2 separate regions of the Homo sapiens genome follow, and region 1 is linked to region 2. Evidence: fine-mapped expression QTL. A gene starts in region 2. The other region holds a variant in brackets. All regions are shown on one strand. Distances are from middle to middle.

Region 1 (5,366 bases), 110 kb after region 2:
CAGGAAAAAAAAAACCGATTTCCCTGGGAATTCCTTGCTGCATTACTACACTAACATCTGTGTATGTAAGAATGACTTGTGGTGGTGGCCACAGGAAGAGGCTTCCTGCCTGTGGAAAAAGGAGAGAAGAGCAGGAAGGACTTTGTATTGTGGTTTGAGTGCCAGCATAGCTGCAGAATAGAACATCAGGCAAATCTCTAAGGTTTTTTGTTTTTGCTTTTTGAGAGTCTGCTCTGTCGCTCGGGCTGGAATGCAGTGGCATGATCTCGGCTTACCGCAACCTCTGCCTCTGAGGTTCAAGCAATTTTCCCACCTCAGCCTCCTGAATAGCTGGGATTACAGGCATACACAAGCACACCCGGCTAATTTTTGTATTTTTTAGTAAAGACAAGGTTTCGCCATGTTATCCAGGCTGGTCTGGAACTCCTGGCCTCAAGTGATCCTCCCACCTCAGCCTTCCAAAACGCTGGGATTACAGATGTGAGCCACCATGCCCAGCTAAAATTTAATTTTATTTAAACAAATACTTATTGTTTGCTAAGTGGTGTGGATACAGTGGCGAACAACACATACAACATGGTCCCTGTCCTCTTGATGGGTTTCACCATGTTGGCCAGGCTGGTATCAAACTCCTGGCCTCAGGTGATCCACCCACCTTGGACTCCCAAAGTGCTAAGAAATCTCTAAGGCTTTTTGCTCCAATCCCTGGCTTCCGGACAACATGTCTGTACCCACCTGGGACCTGGGGGAACTTGCTGCCCTGAAGGGGAGGATACAAACCTGGCTGGCTTCACCACCTGCTGACTATAGAGCCCTAGGGCCCTGAGTGAACACAGGTGGCAGCCATGTAGTGGTTACAGCGGGCCTTGGGCGAGACCCTGTGCTGTGCTGGCTTCAAGTCTGACCCAGCAGTCTCAGCAGTAATGGCCAGAGGGGTGCTTACATCAACACACTCCAGTTCAAGGTGGCTCAGCACAGAAAAAGAGACTCCATTTGTTTGGGAGAAAGTGAGGAAAAAGAACAAATCTTTGTCTCGTAATCCAGAGAATTCTTCCAGATCTTTATTATCCAAGACCACCAAGGTGGTATTTCTATGAATCTGCAAAAACCACAGCATTATTGGACTCGGGGCTCAAATTCCTTCGAATACCTAGAAAGCCTTCTGAAGAAGGACAGGCACAAACAAGCCCAGATTGCGAAGACTATAAAAAATACCTAGCTTGTCAATGCCCAAACACCAACAAACATCTACAAGCATCAAGATCATGCAGGAAAACATGGCCTCACCAAAAGAACTAAATAAGGTACCAGGGACCAATCCTGGAGAAACAGAGATATGTGACCTTTCAGACAGGGAATTCAAAAGAACTATATTGATGAAACTCAAGGAAATTCAAGATAACACAGAGAAGGAATTCAGCATTCTATCAGATAAATTTAACAAAGAGACTGAAATAATTATAAACAATCAAGCAGAAACTCTACAGTTGGAAAATGCAACTGAATACTAAACAATGCATTAGAGTCTCTTAATAAGAGAATTGATCAGACAGAAGAAAGAATTAATGAGCTTGAAGACAGGCTATTTGAAAATACTCAGAGGAGACAAAAGAAAAAAGAACAACAACAACAACAAAACGAAGCACACCTGCAAGATCTAGCAAATAGCCTCAAAAGGGAAAATCTTAGAGTTATTGGCCTTAAAAAGGACGTAGAGAAAGAGATACGGATAGAAAGTTTATTCAAAGGAATAATAACAGAAAACTTGCCAAACCTAGAGAAAGATATCAACATTCAAGTACAAGAAGATTATAGAACACCAAGCAGATTTAACCAAAAGAAGACTACCTCAAGGCATCTAATAACAAAACTCCCAAAGGTCAAGGATAAAGAAAGGATCCTAAAAGCAGCAAGAGAAAAGAAAAAAAAAAACATACAATGGAGCTCCAATAAATCTAGCAGCTGGCCTTTCAGTGAAAAACCTTACAGGCTAGGAGAAAGTGGTAATGATATATTTAAAGTGCTGAGGGAAAGAAACTTTTACCCTAGAACACTATATCCGGCAAAAATATCCTTCAAGCATGAAGGAGAAATAAAGACCTTCCCAGACAAGCAAAAGCTGAGAGATTTCATCAACACCAGACCTGTCCTACAGGAACTGCTAAAAGGAGTTCTTCCATCTGAAAGAAGAGAGGATGTTAACGGCAAGAAGAAATCATCTGAAGATACAAAACTCACTGGTAATAGTAGGCATACAGAAAAACACAGAATATTGTAACACTGTAATTGTGGCATGTAAACTCCCACATACCATAATTACAGTGTTATGATAAGCCAATATAAATAATAACTACAACAACTTTTCAAGACATAGTACAATAAGACATAAAGAGAAACAACAAAAAGTTAAAAAGCAGAGGGATGAAGTTAAAGTGTACAGTTTTTATTAGTTTTCTTTTTGCATGTTTGTTTATGCAATCAGTGTTAAGTTGTCATCAGTTTAAAATAATGGGTTATGCCAGGTGCAGTGGCTCACGCCTGTAATCCCAGCACTCTAGGAGGTCGAGGTGGGCGGATCACCTGAGGTCAGAAGTTTGAGACCAGTCTGACCAACATGGAGAAAGCCCGTCTCTACTAAAAATACAAAATTAGCCGGGCGTGGTGGCACATGCTTGTAATCCCAGCTACTTGGGGGGCTGAGGCTGGAGAATCACTTAGGAGGTGGAGGTTGCAGTGAGCC[G/A]AGATCACACCATTGTGTTCCAGCCTGGGCAACAAGAGTGAAACTCTGTCTCAAAAAATAAATAAATAAAAATAAAATAAAATAATGGATTATGAGACATTAATAATATTTGCAAGCCTCATGGTAGCCTCGAATTGAAAAACACACAACGGATACACAAAAAATAAAAAGCAAGAAATTAAGTCATACCACCAGAGAAAATAACCTTCACTAAGGGGAAGACAAGGAAGGAAGGGAAGAAGTAAAAGAAGACCGCAAAACAACCAGAAAACAAATGACAAAATGGCAGGAGTAAGTCCCAACTTATCAGTAATAACACTGAATGTAAATAAACTAAACTCTCCAATAAAAAGACATAGAGTGGCTAAATGCATGAAAAAATAAGACCCAATGATCTGCTGCCTACAAGAAACACACTTCACCTATAAAGATACACAGACTGAGAATAAATGGATGGAAAAAGATATTCCATGCCAATGGAAACCAAAAAAGAGCAGAAGTAGTAGCTATACTTACATTAGAAAAAATAGATTTTAAGACAAAAATTATAAGAAGAGACAGAGATCGCTAGTACATAATGATAAAGGGGTCAGTCTAGCAAAAGGATATAGCAATTATAAATATACATGTACCCAACACTGGAACACCCAAATATGTAAAGCAAATATTATTATAGCTAAAGAGATAGACCTCAGGCTAGGCACAATAGCTCATGCCCATAATCCCAGCACTTTGGGAGGTCCAGGTGGGTGGGTTTCTGGAGCCCAGGAGTTTGAGACCAGCCTGGGAAACATGGCAAAACTCTGTCTCTACAAAAAAATACAAAAATTAGCCAGGCATGGTGGTGCATGCCTGTAGTCCCAGCTAATCAGAGGGCTGAGGCAGGAGGATCACTTGAGCCTGTAAGGTTGAGGCTGCAGCGGGCTGAGATCGCACCACTCCACTCCAACCTGGATAACAGAGCAAGACCTTGTCTCAAAGAGAAAGAGACCTCAATACAATAACAGTTAGAGACTTCAACACCCCACTTTCAGCACTGGACAGATCTCCCAGACAGAAAATCAACAAAGAAACACTGGACTTAACCTACACTAAGGATGACCTAATAGAACAAATGGACCTAAGAGATATTTACAGAACATTTCATCCAAAGGCTACAGAATACACATTATTGCCCTTAGCACATGGATTATTCTCAAGGACAGACCATATGTTAGGTCACAAATAAGTCTTAAAATACTCAAAAAATTTGAAATATCCAGCATTTTTTACCACAATATCAAGCATCTTTGAATAAAACCAGAAATCAATAAGAGGAATTTTGGAAATGATACAAACACATGGAGATTAAATACGCTCCTGAATGACCAGTGGGTCAAAGTCAATGAAGAAATTAAGAAGGAAACTGAAAAGTTTCTTGAAACAAATAGCAGAAACACAACATAACAAAACCTATGGGATACAGTGCAAGCACTAGTAAGAGGGAAGTTTAAAGCTATCAGCACCTTGTTGGGAGCAAGCCCCCCAAAATCTGGCCATAAACTGGCCCCAAAACTGGCCATAAACAAAATCTCTGCAGCACTGTAACATGTTCATAATGGCCCTAACGCCCAAGCTGGAAGGTTGTGGGTTTACGGGAATGAGGGCAAGGAACACCTGGCCCGCCCAGGGTGGAAAACCACTTAAAGGCATTCTTAAGCCACAAACAATAGCATGAGCGATCTGTGCCTTAAGAACATGCTCCTGCTGCAGTTAACCAGCCCAACCTACTCCTTTAATTCGGCCCTTCCCTTAGTTTCCCAAAAGGGATACTTTTAGTTAATTTAATATCTATAGAAACAATGCTAATGACTGGTTTGCTGTTAATAAATACGCGGGTAAATCTCTGTTTGGGGCTCCCAGCTCCGAAGGCTGTGAGACCCCTGATTTCCCACTTCACACTTCTATATTTCTGTGTGTGTGTGTCTTTAATTCCTCTAGCGCCACTGGGTTAGGGTCTCCCTGACCGAGCTGGTCTCGCGCAAGTGGCGTCCATTCGTGGGGGCTCAAATCCAGGTCAAAGGGTTGCTGAAGCGATGCTTGGAACAGAAAACTAGCTGGAGGACACCCGAGTACTCTTAAAGCAGTCCCCATGGTGAGTAAGAAGGGGAGCTCGGATGCCTCAGGGTAACAATGGGACAGGGATGGGGTCTGGTTCGTTTCACCTTAGAACTTTTTCACACTGATAATGAGGAGGAACAAGAGAATAGTGAAGTAACAGAAGAGGTTACAGAGCAGGTTTATTTGCCAGCTAAAGCTAAAGTGGCAAAGGAAGGAGAGGTTCATCCCTACCCTTCTGCACCCCCTCCTTATTATTTTGAAGAAAATGACCCCCCGGATCTTTCTTTTCCGGAGGACATTGGGCAAAAAGTAGTTGCCCCAGTGACTCTTCGAGCGGCACCTCGAGTGACGGCTCTTAGTTCTATTCAGGCAGGAATTCAGCAAGCTATACGAGAGGGTGATTTAGAGGTTTGGCGGTTCCCTGTTAGAACAAACCCCCCAGATCAACAGGGAAATATTACAGCTACATTTGAGCCTTTTCCTTTTAAATTACTCAAAGAATTTAAAAAAGCTATTCATACTAAAA
Region 2 (5,366 bases):
TCCCTGGAGCATGGTGGAGCAGGATCCCCATTGGCAATGCCAGACTTGGCTTCCTGGCACTAATCCTGCTGGCTGAGGCACCCAGCTCATAAGGATATTAGTCTTTCCCTTAGTTCCTGTCTCTGGCTGTCAGGGAACCTGACAGGTAGGGGTGGAAAAAGTGCAGTGGATTCTAGATCCAGCTTTGCTGTGTGACCCCAAGTGTGTCACTTCTCCTCTCTGGGCCTCCAGTGCTCCAACAATAAGGAAATAGCCAAGGAGTTCCTTCCAGCTGGTATCCTGGGATTGTTCCTCCAGCAAGGGTTCCAGTCTCCTAGCATGGTGGTTGTGGCTCCCTTCATCCTGCCTGATTCTGAAGCCAGGGGCTACTCTAGCACTCTGAGCCTTGACACGTCCCTCCTCCTGTGCCAGGGCAGAGCCCTGGGGGTGGGGAGTGGCAAGGAAGAGATAATTCTGGAGGTGGAAAAGACACTGACCTTGGCAAGTTCCAGAACCTGCGTGGGTGCCGGTTGCTTCCAAATGTGGGCTGGAAAAGAAGTGGGAGCTACTGAGGCCCTCCCCTTCTGTTTCCCTGAGTGGCACCTAAAGGAGTGCCCCAGACCTGTCAGACCCCAGAGCCTGCAGGGGAATCTGCATTAGAAGAAGGGAGGGGGTAGTGTTTGGAGTTCTACAGGCTAGTGGGTGAGGGCCAATCTTGCCCTACTGACACTCAGGCTAGGCAGCCACTCAAAAGGGAAACAAGCTCTCAGGAGAGAGGACCCTTAAGCACTGCCCTTGGGTGGAAACAGGATTGCCTTGGGACATCTGGAGGCTCAACAGCAGGAAGGTTCTCTGGACCCTCCATCATCAGCACAGCCCTCCTCCTACCTTCTCCTGGGGCAAAGCCGGTTCCTGGCCTTTATCCCTGATGAAGCCTTGAGTGTGTGTGTGTCGGGCAGAATTCTGTCTACCCTTCGACTGGGAGCTCCAGGAAGACAGGGCTGTGCCTCTTGGACTCTCTTGGGTATCCCTGGTGCACAGTCCAATGTTTGGCACAAAGTTAACACTCAGTATGTATCTATTGAACGGATGTCTTTGGACACTCTCAGTGGACTAGAGGTCTGGGATTCATCCCTCATCTTTTCTTCCTGCCAGTCATCCTGCTTGGCCCAGTGTGACTGCCGCCTTCTGGGCAAGCCCTCCAGTGGAGCCCTCTGTTTAGATCTCACACCCTACACTCCGCTGCCCCCGTCCAGTGCTCGCCCTCCTCCCCCGCAGCCACCCGCTCCCGGAGTGGCATCAGCGCAGAGCCGCGGCCTTGCCTGGCGGTGCGTCCTGCCCTCTGCAGCCCGGGAGGGCAGGCGCAGCAGAGTCCCGCGCGCAGTGGGTTCTCAGCTCACCTGGGGGCGGAGGAAGTGAGCAAGAGTCCTCCAGACTGGGGCCAGGGGGCCAAGGCAGTCCTGGGAAAGGGGGTCTGGGGCGGCCCGCGGACGGGGCGGGCCCAGGCCGGCTGCCTTCCCCTTTGCCCTTCGACCCAGGAAGCCGCCCACATCCAGCGGACACGCTCGACGGGCTGGGCTGCTCAGTCCCGGCCTCGGCCCCGTCCCCATGCCGTCCCCCACCCCTACCCGCCGGCCCGACCCCCACCCCAACCCCAGCTTCCCGCTCCGACGGCCGGGAGAGGCGGGGCGGACGGGTCTGAGAGTGGCGAAGGACACTCTCCACACCGAGGGTCACTTGCTCTTTTTTCCCCTCTGTGGCTAATTTATTTTAGAGCCAGGGGCGGGAGGGGGCGGGGCCAGCCGGGAGGGTGGCAAGGAGGGGCTGGGCGAGCCCAGGGGAGGTGGGGGCGGGGCGGGGGCGAGGTGGGGGAGGGCGGGGAAGAAGCCGGGGGTGGAGGGGCCAGAGAAGGGGCGGGAGCTGGGGGAAGAGAGGGGCACTAGGAGAGGGAGGAGCAGGGAAAGGGGAGGGGAGGGAGGGCCTGCGAGGGAGGGCCCTGGGGGCGGGCGAGGGGAGGCGGGGGTGGGGGTGGGGGTCTTTCCTGCGGGGGGAGCCGGGGCCGCCCCTTGTCCGGCCACCCCCACTGCCCAGTCCCGCTCCCGCCCGCGGCGGCCGCAGCAGCCGCAGCAGCAGCGGCTCCAGGATGGTGAGCGCCACTGCCCCCCAGCCCAGGCCTGTCGCCCCCGGCCCGCGCCGCCGCCCCGGTCCCCGGGCCGGACGCGCCCCCAGGCCGCGCACACTCACCTAGGACCCGGCCGTGATGCCGAGGTACGGGGCCGCGGGCGGGCCGGGATGGGGCGGGGGGAGGTGACCGTTCGGTCAGGGTGTCCGGAGCTTTGTCCGCCGGCCCGGGGCCGGAGAGGGCCGAGAGGGCGGGGGCTGCTAGTCGCGGGGTTCAGCTCGGCGGGGGTCGGAGGGCAGGGCCGGCGAGAGACCCTAGCGGGTACGTGGGAGCCGAGGGTCACTTCTCGGGGGGAGGGGGCGGGCAGAGCAGGGGATAGCCGCCCGGCCGCCGACGGGCACCCGTCTCGCAGCCCCCTCTGGTGCGGGGGCTGCAGCGAAAGCGAGCAGCCGGCTCGGGGGCGTCTGCTGGCCTGGGGGTGGGGAGCCAAGGTTTGCGGGTTCGGGTCCCAGAAGGATCCAGCGTCCGGAGCCCGAGGGCCGGCCCGCAGGCCCCTCCCACTCCGTCAGGTCTTTGTCCAGCGGCCCCTGTGTGTGTGTGTGGGAGGGGTGGGGGCTGGGTTACTGGCCCGGAGATTCCCCAGCATGGTGACGGGGCAGTGACAGGAGGCCGAGGCTACTTAGGGTCCCCGCGCCCCTAACACCCACCCTCTTCATGTCTTCTCCTCTGGCCCGGGAGAACAGAGCCCGCGTCTCAGAGTCAGGGGGTTGTAGGAGGCTGTACTCACCTTCACCCTGGGGCTACAGGCAACAAGGGGGACCCCCGGAGCGCCCAGCTCTCCAGAGAGGGCCCCTCAAACTTCCCCACCGCAAGAGCCCTCTCCTGTTCTACACAGAGATTCGCATGCTAGCAACCCCCCCGCCGCTGCAGAGGGTCCTTCGCAGATTGCTGAGCACCCTGTAGGTGATCAGCAAATGCTGGTGCCCTTCCCCAGCCCCGCTGGTCCCCCTGCCCCCGCCAGAGGAGGAGGCCTGGGAAGGGGTCTGCGCGGGGCAGAGAGCGCGCGGCCTGGACCCTGCGCCCAGCGGCGGCCCGGAGCGCAGGGGTGGGTGGACGGGTGGGTGGGCTGTTAAAGGGACGGTCACTAAATCAGGATTAGGCCGTAGGGCTGTCAGGCTGCCGGCCCTGTCTCCATGGATACCTAATTTGGAGGAGAATAGAGGACTGAAGAATGTTTGTGTTGTCCGCACGGGCTGTGGCGGCGGAGCGGTCTCCTGCTTTCCGCCCGGCAGCGAGGAGTGGGGACCCGGTTCCAGCCCAACTCTGGGCTTACGGCGCAGGTGGGCTTCCCGGTTCCTGGGCCGTGGGGCCTCCCCTGTGGAGCCGCCCAGTCTCTGGAGTGGGCTGGGCCCGCAGATGCCACGGTGCGAAACCCTCTGACCCTGCAGAGGGAGTCCCAGACCCTCCCGGAGCCTACCCCGAAATCCCATAGCATCCTCCTAAAGCCTCCCCGAGCCTCTCAGTCCGGAACCGACGCCATTCCCCGCTGTGCCTGAGCCCCCAAGGACGGGCGCGCCGGGCTGCCCGGTGCTGTGGTGCCGCCGCCACCCAGCTGTGGGACGCGGGTACCGGGCGGCCGCGCGAGCTGCGGGCAGGGGGCGGGGCGGGACTTCCTGGGGTGGGCGAGGAAAGGGGCGGGGCTTGCTGGGGTGGCTGGGCTGGACGGGTGACAGGCCTCGTAAATCCCCTTTCCCATGTTTAACACCATTTCATTTCTTTCCACTTGATTCCATTGGCATCCAAGGCAGACGGGAGCGACCCTCGTGTCCTCGCTGTAATATCTTCTGGGCGAAGCCCTTTTGGGCCAAAGGGAATTAGGCTGTGTGGGGCAGAGGAGTTGCTCCTGGGGAGGCCTAGAGGACCCGCATTCCTCGGGGGGATTCCTGTTGCCCCCACCCCCGCCCCAGAAGAAGAAACAGAAGGGGCTGAGAGACACAGAAATGAGTTTGGCTTCGGAGGCCCTGCCCGATTCTCTGGCCGTGGTATGGCTGAGGGCTGGGCTGAGGATCCCGTAACTGTCAATTCCAGTACCAGCCTGGGCGAAGGCTGGGGAGAGCCACCCAGACTGAGTGTGGCGTCGCAGAGCCCTTTCCTGCCTTTCTTCTGCTCACCCATGGCCACAGCTTTTTATGGATCAGGACTCCCCTCCCTGCCCTGCCTGGGCCGCAGCTTTATTGCTGAGATCTAGGGCTCTCTCCACGCAATTTCACGCCTCTCTGCCTTTGCTCCCGCTGTTCCTCCAGCCAAATGCCTTCCTCATTGTCCCTGTCTTTCCACAACCTCCTTATTCTTCAGGGCCCAACTCGGATGCGCACCTCCTCCGCATCACCTCCCCAGCCCCGAGCTTCTGTCACTTGCTCCTCCCTCCGTGGCCTGCACCTGTGCTCCCTTCCGCCTTTGTGGCGGGGTCCACTCAGGGCTTTGACTGAAATGGAGCATGTACTCCCTGGCCCTGCCCCCAGTGGGCTTGCCACAGGGCTTGACACCTTGTGGGTGCTCCATAAATATTGGTTGGCTGAATAAAAGGGGTTTTGTAAGGGCCTTTAGCCAGGCAGTCTGCATAGCATGGAATCTGGCCACCTTCAGGTAAACAGCTCTGTGCTCTTGGGTGGTGGAGACCCCTGGGTGGGGCTCCTCCTCTCCCTTTCCCTTATTTGCCTCCTTCTCCTCCCCATGACCCTACCCCACCCCCCCAAGTCCGGGGAGGACTTTGCCCCTTCCCTTCCCCACAGACCAGCATTCTTTCCCTGCCATTATCATTCTGTTAAACAGAGAGGCCAGTCAGGATCCATATGGATCACATTAACAATTGCTTATTATCTGGGCCAGGACTCCCCCGACTCTCCCCCCAAGCTCCGACTGCTGCCATTGCTGGACCCTTAGGAGCCCTGCCTTCCCCTCCCCCTGCCGTCGGTCAGCCAGGGAGGGCAAGAGACAGGCTGGTCTCCCTCACCTTCCCTGTGCCTTCTAGCAGAACTTTGCCTCTCCTGGACTTGGCGGTTATCGACTCCTTTACCCGATTTAATGAAAACCAGGTTCCTGGAAGGAGCATGGCTCTGCAAAGCTCCAGGGCTGCAGCAGGGAGATGTGGACTCCAGGCCCCAGTGCCCCTGTGCTCTGCAGCCCTGAGACCCCCTTCAGGGGACAGAGACTGTGGGGGGGGGGCGGTGAGCCACAAGAGGTCAAGTATGGGGTGCTGGCATCT

What was found. PIP is the estimated chance that this variant, and not a neighbour inherited with it, causes the effect. A credible set is the group of variants that fine-mapping cannot tell apart.
Region 1: its variant is the best candidate, but not a certain one, in a credible set for the expression of FIGNL2-DT in whole blood (INTERVAL, PIP 0.55).

Annotation. Positions count from the first base shown.
Region 1 is chr12:51,739,154-51,744,519 of GRCh38, reverse strand. All of the region lies in intron 12 of SCN8A (sodium voltage-gated channel alpha subunit 8), which reads right to left. Among named protein-coding and RNA genes, the nearest start is that of TMDD1, 73 kb to the left of the region's middle. The variant G/A (reference allele first, on the strand shown) is at 2,741.
Region 2 is chr12:51,845,421-51,850,786 of GRCh38, reverse strand. It overlaps FIGNL2-DT (FIGNL2 divergent transcript), which reads right to left and starts at 2,564. Exons shown (of 3, transcript NR_135803.1): 1 at 2,224-2,564; 2 at 477-526. It overlaps FIGNL2 (fidgetin like 2), which reads left to right and starts at 2,069. Exons shown (of 2, transcript NM_001384995.1): 1 at 2,069-2,247. RefSeq lists enhancers at 1,845-2,836, 3,035-3,743, 4,454-5,162, 5,163-5,366.